2 separate regions of the Homo sapiens genome follow, and region 2 is linked to region 1. The links come from fine-mapping of genetic effects on gene expression. A gene starts in region 1. The other region holds a variant in brackets. All regions are shown on one strand. Distances are between the middles of the regions. Region 1 holds the start of TARBP1 (tRNA guanosine 2 -O-methyltransferase TARBP1). Region 2 overlaps TARBP1 (tRNA guanosine 2 -O-methyltransferase TARBP1).

Region 1 (5,378 bases):
TTGCTTATCCCTAAAACTGCAAAATAACTGGCCGAGCGCGGTGGCTCACGCCTGTAATCCCAGCGCTTTGGGAGGCCAAGGCGGGCAGATCACCTGAGGTGAGGAGTTTGAGGCCAGCCTGACCAACACGGTGAAACCCCGTCTCTATTAAAAATACAAAATTAGTGGGGCATGGTGGCGCATGCCTGTAATCCCAGCTACTCTGGAGGCTGAGGCAGGAGAACCGCTTGAACCCGGGAAGTGCAGGTTGCGGTGAGCGGAGATTGTGCCATTGCATTCCAGCCTGGGCAACAAGACCGAAACTCCATAAAACAAACAAACAAACAAACAAAACTGCAAAATAACAGACTCATGTAAATAAATGAATGTTTTAATTTTTGATGATTTAAAAAATGTTTTCCAGTGAAAACTCTCAGGGATGATCACACCTATCTGTGGACTGTTCAAATATTTACTCTCTAATGTTTTAAAATTACTTGAAAATATAACCTCATAACTTCAGCCAAACAAAAATCCTTTACCTGTAATAAATGGTCAGCTACCGTTGAAAAAGTAGAAATATTCTATTGAGACAATTTTGAGTCAATCTACTTTGTACTTGACAGTTTAAACCCAAATTTAACATGAGTGAAGTCAAACCAATCAACAGTAACGTAACAACTTGAAGGGAGGCCTTGCTGTTTCATTACTCTTGCACATAGTAGGGAGCAAAGCTCAAACAGTTAAAAAATAAAATCTGATTCATTCTATTAAATCAATGGCAAAAATACACTCAAAAGGTCGACTTAAGAAACATGTTTAACAAATATTAGTAAATCCTGTTCCTAATTACCAGGGGAAATTTCAGAAGAGTGTGATGGCCTCTATGACGCTTAATTCTAACACTCAACACTCAATTCACTAATTCACTGGTCAGTACAGATAAATAACAAATAATTTTTCTTTCAACTTGATAGATATCAACCGTTTCTATTGGGTTGAATCTACCATGATATAGTGCAGATTTGGGTCTGTAAAATCTTGCACGGGCTCCATTATCTTCCTAAACTATTCCAGGGGTGCTGTATTCCACCGGCTCTGGGTTAGAACGTTCCCAACCGCAGTGATTTGTGACTTCAAAGAACACCCTCGAGAAGGGGTTCCAAAGGTTTTCAGGCTTTAGGGGAGCAACGCGGAATAACCAAATTCTGCATGGATCGGAGTGACGACCCCGATAAGCTAGTTTTTAGAAGCAGGAAGACTCCCCTCTGGGGCAGCCAAGTAGGTAGCACTAGGCTGGGGGGCAAAGAGGCAGGTACCGTTTCCTTCCTGGGGCCCGCAGGTGCAGTCGGCCCCCAGCTCCGCCGACACCTCCACCGCCCTCTGCAGCAGGTAGCGCGCTCGCTTGCGCGTCAGGGCGTCCGCCTGGCCCAGCCCCGCCTGCACCGTCCTCCAGAAGCGCCAGCAGCGCCGGGCGTCCGGGCCCGCCTCGCGCGCGCCGCGGGCGCGGTCGCCGCCGGGCTCGGGCAACAGCTTCTCGGCCAGGGCGCTCAGGACCAGCAGCTTCTCCTCTACGCGGCCGGACCCCAGGGACGCCCCAGGCGCGGCCAGCCCGCCCCACACGGCCCGCAGCGCCGCCCCGCCACATTGGACCAGCACTGGCAGCAGTCGCCCGGCCACCAGCGCCGCCGCGTCCTCGGCAGGCCCGGCCTCATCCCCGTCCCCGCCCCCGCCCAGCGCCAGGGCGACGGCGGTCCCCGCCACGCGCTCCAGTAGCGGCCCGTCCTCGCGGGGCCGCAAACATGGCCCGACGGCTGCTAGCACTTCCACGGCAGCCTCGGCGCCAGGCGCGCGCCACCCGGCGAGCAGATCGCGCAGCGCCTCCTCAGCCAGCGCGGCCGCCAGCTGCGGACGCCCGGCCAGGCGGACGCACGAGCGCAGGGCCGCGCCCGCCGCCCTCAGCACGCGCCGGCGGTGGCGAGGCTGCAGACTGGGGTCCGGGCCGCCCGCGGGGCGTCCGCGCAGGCTCCGCAGCAGTGGCACGAGGTACCCTGCAGCCACCTCGCGCGCCGCCTCCGGGAGCGCGCCTGCGCCCCCGCTGCCGCGCGCCTCCTCGTCCTCGAGCCGCTGCAGAAGGAAGCGCAGCGTCTCCACGCGCTCCGCGGATGCCTCCCCTTGGCACAGCGCCCCAAGCAGGGCCCGGGGGTCCCGGCTCTGCGAGAGCAGCGCTTCCGCGAGCACCCACTCCATTTGCCGAGCGCCCGCGCCACCGGCCCGGGCTCCCAAAGGAAGGCGCCGGCGTGTGCGATGCGTGCGCACAGGACCGGCCGGCCCCTACGTGCGCGTGCGCCGACGGAGCCGGGCGCGCGGCCGCAGAGAGGGGGATCCCAGCCCGGCTTGGTGCAGCTCAGCTTCCCTTGGGTTCCTGCCACCAACCCTGCCTAGATAGAACCCACCTGGTCTCTTATTTTTAGGAGAAACGAGGCCTTCGTTAAAAGTTAATGTAGTATCTACACCAGCTTCATCGATTCCTGATTGGAGGTTGGTCTGCCCAGGACCCTAAATCAGGCGTGCCTGTGAGCATAAACCAGTTCACAGAAGGTGCACAGCAGAATCACTTTAGATTATTTTCCAAACGTTGCATGATGGGCACCATCCACAAAGAGACTGACACAGTAGGTCTGAAATTGGTTCTGGACATCTGCATTAAAAATAAGTCATGAAAACACAAGAATGATTTAGACGTAAGGCCAGGAGTGAGAAGTGTTACCGGTGGAGGGTGTCCAGGTCCAAGAATTGGACAAAGCGCACAAACAAAGCAAAGACAGAATGAAGCCACAAAAGCAGAGATTTATTGCAAAAGTACACTCCACAGGGTGGGGGCAGACCCAAGCAAGCCGCTCAAGGGGGGCTGGTTACAGAATTTTCTGGGGTTTAAATACCTATAGAGGTTTCAATTGGTTACTTGGTGTACACACTATGTAACTGAAGAGGATAAAATGAAGTTACAAAGTTATTTACTTGGTGTACTCCCTATGTAAATGAAGAGGATATTTCCTGTCATAGCTGAAGTGTTTCTATCTGATTTGGTTCTAGGGAGTTTTTGGATTCCCTGCCTCCAGGCCCTATTCTCCTGCCTTAGAGGTACCTATAGCAATGTGCTAGGATTCAGCTAAAACCAAGATGCCCACGCCAGCCCTCACAGCCAAGTGCCCAAGATGACTCCAGGATGCAGAGCCTCCTGCACAATGCATGTGCTCCCATGTGCAAACTCAAAAATAGTCCCTGTGTCTGTCTTTTCTGTATTTCTGACAGCATCCATTGCTAAATAGAGAAACAGAAAACCTCACCTCGGCATGCATGGTGTGGATTTGGTTCCTGGCTCAATTTGAGACAAACTAGATCAGTGACATAGGGTTTTCTTCGCTACTAAACACAAAGATCTGCCTCTTAGTCAATAGAGAAAACAGGGTCCCAACTTCAAAGAGCTTGACATATAATAACATAATGGATAAGACAAAAATTAGTTATTTAAATTTACAGTTATTTTTATATAAAGTTATCTGACTTTAAGGTTATCTGACATTACACAGGCAAGACTTTTTTCATATTTCAGTCATTCCGTTTTTCATTGACAAAATGCATAAATGTTTCTATTTTAAGCCCTTTTAACATGTCAGTAAATATCAATTACCTTCAACATAAAATGTGCAGAAAACTATTGTTTCTGTCAACATATATCTAACAAATATAAATGGGTAAATGTCTTGAGCACTTAACAAACGAAGATACACAAATGATAAGCACTTGGAAAAGTGTTCAACATCATTAGTCATCAGAGAAATGCAAATTAAACCCACAATGAGGTACCACTTCATACTGATGAGAATGGCTAACATGTAAAAGCTCGAAAACACTAAACGGCAAAGACCAAGGGTGTGGAGCAACTGGAATTCTCATACATTACTGGTGGGCATGAAAACGGTACAGTCACTTTAGAAACTGTTTCTCGTAAAGTTATAATATAGCTGCTTTATGATTCAGCGATTTCACCCCCAGGTAATTACCTAAAATAAATGAAAACATGTTTCAAAAAAAAAAGCTTGCAGAAGAATGTTTTTGACAACATTATTCGTTATAGCCAAAAGCTTATAACAACCTAGTAGGTGTTAGGTAACAACCTACATGTGCATCAAATTGAAGAATGAATAAAAAATTGTGATCTATCTATATAATAATGCTCCCAGCAATAAGACAATGAATTGCTAATCCGCTTTACATGGATAAGTCTCAGAAACAATATGTTAAACAAAGGAAGCCAGTCACAACGTTTACATCCTCGTGATTTCATTTATATGAAATCCAAGAAGAGACAAAAGTAATCTGAAGGATAGAAATGAGAACAGTAGTTGCATATAGGGAGTAGAGATTTGACTAGAATTGGGCACAAGGGAACTTTCTGGGGTGATGAAAATATTTTATGTTGATCAGGGTGTTGTTACACATTTGTCAAGACTCCTTGAACTGAACCCTTAAGATCTATGCATTTCGCTCTGCAGAAAGTTTACCTCAATCAGCCGGGCGCAGTGGCTCACACCTGTAATCCCAGCACTTTGGGAGGCCGAGGCCGGTGGATCATGAGGTCAGGAGATTGAGACCATCCTGGCCAACATGGTGAAACCCCATCTCTACTGAAATACAAAAAAATTAGCTGGGCATGGTGGTGCACGCCTGTAATCCCAGCTACTCGGGAGGCTGAGGCAGGAGAATTGCTTGAACCCAGGAGGCAGAGGTTGCAGTGAGCCAAGATCACACCACTGCACTCCAGCCTGGAGACAGAGTGAGACTTGGTCTCAAAAAAAAAAAAAAGAAAGTTTACCTCAATCTTGAAAAATGACTTATACCAAAAAACAAAACAAAACAAAACAAAACAAAAAAACAAGTTGGCCTATGTGTTTTATTCTCTGTTGCCTTCAGAGTAAAGCCTAACTGCAGAGCACAGCATTGAAGGCTTATTGGGATTGGGGAAAAGCCAGCTGGCCTCACAGCCTGACTCCCCCTTCTCTGCCCCAGGTCAGGCATGTGGAACTCTCCTTCTTACCCACAACATGTTTGCACTGTCTTCTCTCCCGGAATATTTCCCGCAACACCACTTTTCTGATTCACCAATGTGGGCAGCGATTCCTAATTGCCAGAGCTGCCCTTTTTCGTTCTTACCTGAATGGACTCTGTGGAGTATTTCCTATTTCTTGAAACACTATCTCACTCTGGTTTTCATCGATGACTTTGTCCTGTTCTTTCTTTTCTCTGCTTCCTCAGCTGTTTCTTCTCCCTTTCTTTCAGCATCTTATTTTTCCTCCTGACCTGTCCATAGTGATATTTCCAGGGTTTTATCTTCA
Region 2 (5,378 bases), 70 kb before region 1:
AGTACTGAGTAGTGGCAGGAAAATTAAGAAATGAGGGGGAAAATAATAAAACTGTTTAAATTTCCTTGTAGTCTTTTCCTGTGAACTTTAGTCTTCACAGCCTGGAGATGTCAAGCAATCCCTTGCTTTCTAAAATCACATGGTTCAACAGACACTGAAGGTCAAAGGAAGTGACATATACTAATGAAGGAACCAGACGGACCCAAACTTTTAATGAAATATCAGAAGCTATTTTGATGCTCCTACCAAATGCACTTCTCCCCTAAGGCTCACATGGAAATGCTTACCGGCTGCGCCTGGCAGCCCAGTTTCTACTGACCAATTCAAAACAACCATATTCACACAATAGTTTACCAAAGGCATCAGCATGGCTGATAACACACTTGTTACTCTAAGTTTCTCTGAGAAGGATAAAAACAGAGATAAACAATCCTCTTTCTCTCATTCCTTTACTCAACATGTCATCAACATTTATCAAAGGTCAGTGACTGTACTGCCAACATTACAAGGTGTGATGTTATGATATACACTGGTTTTTGTCCACAATTCCTGTCTTATAACTCCCATAGCCCTTGTTACAGTCTTTTGTTATAACGATCCCATATGGAAGGAAGTCACTTGTGCAGCCCACACTGAAGGAGTGAGAAGTCACGCTCCCCCTCCCTCAGGGCAGAGCTTCTATAAAAATTACTTGTAATTTTTTTTACAAGAGATTTGTCTTGTCCATCCTTTTTTTTTTTTTTGAGATGGAGTCTCACTCTGTCGCCTAGGCTGGAGTGCAGTCCTGCAATCTTGGCTCATTGCAATTTCTGCCTCCCGGGTTCAAGTGATTCTCCTGCCTCACCTCCTGAGTAGCTGGGATTATAGGCATGTACCACCATGCCTGGCTAATTTTTGTATTTTTAGTAGAGACGGGGTTTCACCATGTTGGCCAGGCTGGTCTCGAACTCCTGACCTCAAGTGATCCACCCGCCTTGGCCTCCCAAAGTGCAGGATTACAGGCATGAGCCACAGTGCCTGGACTCATTTATTGATTCAATCATTTATTTATATCGGTGTGGGCTCGAGGATATTTATTTTATTCTTTGGGTTGTGATCCAACACTGCTTTATTTTGTTGCTCACACTGTTTCAGCTTCAGCCACTGGGAACATCTTCCCTCTGCATGCCCATCTCACATCACTGTATGTATAAAGTTCTGCCTTGCTCTCTGACTCTACAAGATGCTCCAGGCTCATCTTGTATACTTTCTGCCCTAGTTTTAGAATCAGCTATTTCTCCAGCGATCCCTGGTTCGTTTTATTGGAGAATGGTGTTAGCAACCAAGATCTTGGAGCTAGGTATACATTACTCGTAAATGAAAAAAACCCACTATAATTCTCAATAGGGAAAACAGTGCTTCCTATGGAGCCCACACTCAAAAATGTTGGCACTGCCAGTGATCGCTCGGCTGGGGCTTTCAGGACGTAAATGATGCTTTCATACATATCAGTGTAAAAAGCTCTGCTCGTGAATTCTCATGTCCGCTCATTTTACACAATGAGCAAGCTGACAGGACAATACACAACTATGAGCATAATTAAGAAAGGTTTTTTTTTTTTTTCCTTTTATAGGAACACTTCGTGCTCTGATTCTGAAACCGCCTTTGCAAAATTGTAACTGAGGTGGGGAAAGAGATCTGACCTAACCAACTCCATCTTGCTTCTAACCTCCAAGCTGTCCTTGTTCATTCCTGGGTGTAGGCTCAACTAACTTTGGGAGAAACTTAGTTTAGTTTATAGTTTAAAACAAAGATGATAACAGCCCTTTCCCAAGACAAACCCCCTTCTTGTCTGGGGACTAGATTTCCTTTGTAGGACTAACAAATTAGCCTCAAGATTAGAAATTATGGTTCAGGAGTCATGTAGCTGGAAGCTACAAGATTCTGACCCTCCCTAAACTGCTCCTATGTCGGTGCTCGAGATATTTTGCAGACCTGCACTCGACGGATCAGCTGGCACCACCCAGATCGATTAACTGGCTCATCTGATCTCGTGGCCCCCACCCTGGAACTGACTTAGCACAAAAGGACACCTCAATTCCTTATGATTTCATCTCCGACCCAACCAATCAACACCCTTGACTCACTGGCCTTCCCCCTCCCACCAAATTATCCTTAAAAACTCTGATCCCCGAATGCTCAGGGAGATCGATTTGAGTACTAATAAGACTCCAGTCTCCTGCACAAGCAGCTCTGTGTACTCTTCCTCTATTGCAATTCCTGTCTTGATAAATCGGCTCTGTGTAGGCGGCGGAAGAGGTGAACCTGTTGGGCGGTTACCACCTCTGTCGTGTGTGACAGTTGTTTTGAATCTCTAATTGCTCAGTACAGATCCCACATGCAGGTTAAGTAAGATGCTTTGAAGAAAATGGAAAGTCTTAAGTGATTGCTTCCAAGAAATCAAACCTACATTTATCTAGGTAACAACGGACTTTACGTATCACAAATGAAGAGACTGACAAAGTAAATCAACTTGGCCTTTTCTTAGGTATGTCAAGTCAGTTTTTTTTTTCCTAAGGTGTTGAAATGGAAATTCTTCCATTTCACTAATTAGCATTCCTTTTTGGATGTTTCGAAAATAAAAAATAAATCTAAAATATGTAATAAACGGCAAGTACAAAAAGGGCTTGACAGAAAAATAACATGTTACTTTTACCAGATCTAACATGAACATCTTCTAAGGTAAATTCGTTTTCAGAATTTGTCTAAACTATTCTTAGGCTATTCATCTACCCCGCAACAGGACAATGTCTGCTCTGTTTTAGCTTTCTCAATAGA[T/C]TGTAAGCAAATCTCTTTGCGGCACATATTTAAAACAGAAAGACAACATTTGATCTTATCTGATGCCAGAGCCTTCTTGATCTTACGGAAGATGTGAACGAGTTTTCCTGGAACTGTAACACACTGCCATCTGGCTGATACACACTGGAAGACACCATCAATTTAAAAGTGTTATCATGATTTTAGAGGAAAATGTGGTGTGGAGAAAGGCCTGTCTTTGAATGGATGAAATAGGTTAATAAAAAACATCACTGTTTAAAAACTAGAACACTGAAAAATTCTAGGAAAGCTTATTTTCCCTTATATTTTTATGGTACTTTCAACACTTAATAACACTATTTCAATTAAGTTTTCTCCTAGAGTTTATAGTATATCAGTACATTCTTTTCTGTGGATGCAATAATATAGAATCTTATTCCAAATCTTACTGGCAGGTTCTCTTAAATTCTTCAACGGCTGCCATAGTGATTAACCAAAATTAGTTATGATTTCTGCCTATCTGTGTGAGAACTTACAGGGGAAATTGTTCTAAACCTGAGGAACATGAAGTAACTGTACTGCACACTCCAAATGATGACAGTCATTTTATATCACCTTCAATTACCCAACAGCTTTTAATAGTCTGGCCATAAGTTTCTTTGCACGAGCATTTGTTAAATAACTACCATTCAGTCAAAGAAGGTAAGGGAAGTCCTGTTTAAAGAATCCTAAGTAATCCTAATCCTAAGAATTATAAATAATTATTAATTTTATACAAGTATCAACAAAAACTTACCCAGTAGTTTGTCTATAAATTTGGTATGTACTCAAGCACACCTCAGTGTGTATGCATGTAAATGGGTAATTCCCATTTACTGGGTATTTGTGTCTAATACATGTGCACATTAGCAGGGCAGTGGAAAGGAAAGGGAAAAATTGCAAACATTCACAGGAATGCTCTACATATAAAAAATTGGTACAAATACATACAATTCTTTTTTTACAGTCAAGTTTAAATTCTTACAAACAAACTTACCTTTTCTGGAATATTTTGAGTAATAATGTCTAAATGTGATAAAACTGCTAAAAACGTACAAATGCTTGTTTTAAGATTTTCTTCACCCTGAAAAAATAATCAGATAAACAAATATTGATTCAAAGCTTACTGTGAAACATGCACGTGAAAGCGCCGTGCTGGACTCTATGAGGGCCCAGGACAGGAGGCAGCCTCTTCCCTGGAACAGCCCGGGGTCTGGGTGGGAAGGGGGCTGCGGCAACAGGCACAGGACTGAAAGCAAAGGAAATATTTCCTAGAGCCAAATGCCAGTGCACACAAAAATCAGCAGGTCACATAAAGTACTGAATAACTCAACTCTAAGTACAGCGGGGCACAGTGGCTCACGCCTATAATCCCAACACTTTGGGAGGCTGAGGCGGGTGGATCATTTCAGGCCAGGGGTTTGAGATCAGCTTGGCCAACATGGTGAAACCATGTCTACCAAAAAATACAAAAATTCGCTGGGCATGGTAGCGCACACCTGTAGTCCCAGCTACTGGGGAGGCTGAGGTAGAAGAATTGCCTGAACCCAGGGCAGAGTTTGCAGTTAGCTGAGATCGTGCCACTGCACTCCAGCATGGGCAACAGAGCAAGACCCTGTCTCAAAAAAAAACATAAAATAAAGTACAGTGTGCCCTCTGTATGCACGAGTTCTGCATCTATGAGTTCAACCAACCGTGGATGAAAAATATTTAACAAAAAATTTTTAAAACATAATGCAATTAAAAAGTAATACAAAGTTTAAAACTGTATAACAGCGATTTACATAGCATGTACATTGTACTAGACATTATAAGTAATCTAAGATTATTAAAGTATATGGGAGGATACACATCAGTTATGTGCAACTACTATGCCATTCTAAACAAAAGACTTGAGCATCCTCAGGTTTTGGCATCCGTAGGGGGCCTGGAATCAATCCCCCATGGATACCAAGGGTTGATTATCTGTGGCAGAGCCAAGGGCATGCTCACTTCAGGAGAGGTGAGGCCTTCAGGATGGGAAGGACTGGCCTGGAGAAGGAGCAGGAAGGTTAGAGAACAGATAAGTGAACAAGAACAAAGACACAGAGGCAAACTTAAGGGAAAGGCAGCAAGAGGAGACAAAGCCAGTTTGGCAGAGAGTGATGGAGATAAGGCTCAAAAGTTAAATGGAATCATACTGTAGAGGCTTTAAAAAGCTATAGCGAAAAACCTATAGAAGACTTAATCAGCTATCTTAGGGAAAATTTTTTAAGAAGACTGTTCAACTGGAATCTGGAAACCTCTGATTCCAGTTGAAAAAGACTGTTCAACTGGAATCTGAAACTATTATTATTTCATAATCATAGTGGTTTTGGAATAATACATTATTTTAGTGATAATAAACTGATAAATGCCAGACAGATTGGAAAGAAAAGAGCATATAAGCAGGAAGACCAGTTTGGAAACCAATCCAAGAGGCAAATCATTTATTATTATTTAATTCCTTTATTTAATTAACAGTTACTGAATGTCTTCTACATGACAGTTACTATAGAAACAAG

What was found. PIP is the estimated chance that this variant, and not a neighbour inherited with it, causes the effect.
Region 2: its variant is fine-mapped to the expression of TARBP1 in whole blood (TOPMed, PIP above 0.99).

Annotation. Positions count from the first base shown.
Region 1 is chr1:234,476,875-234,482,252 of GRCh38, forward strand. It overlaps TARBP1 (tRNA guanosine 2 -O-methyltransferase TARBP1), which reads right to left and starts at 2,305. Exons shown (of 30, transcript NM_005646.4): 1 at 1,299-2,305. The coding sequence starts at 2,229. RefSeq lists silencers at 1,402-2,201, 2,232-2,421.
Region 2 is chr1:234,406,613-234,411,990 of GRCh38, forward strand. It overlaps TARBP1 (tRNA guanosine 2 -O-methyltransferase TARBP1), which reads right to left. Exons shown (of 30, transcript NM_005646.4): 23 at 3,833-3,919. Among named protein-coding and RNA genes, the nearest start is that of COA6-AS1, 36 kb to the left of the region's middle. The variant T/C (reference allele first, on the strand shown) is at 2,818.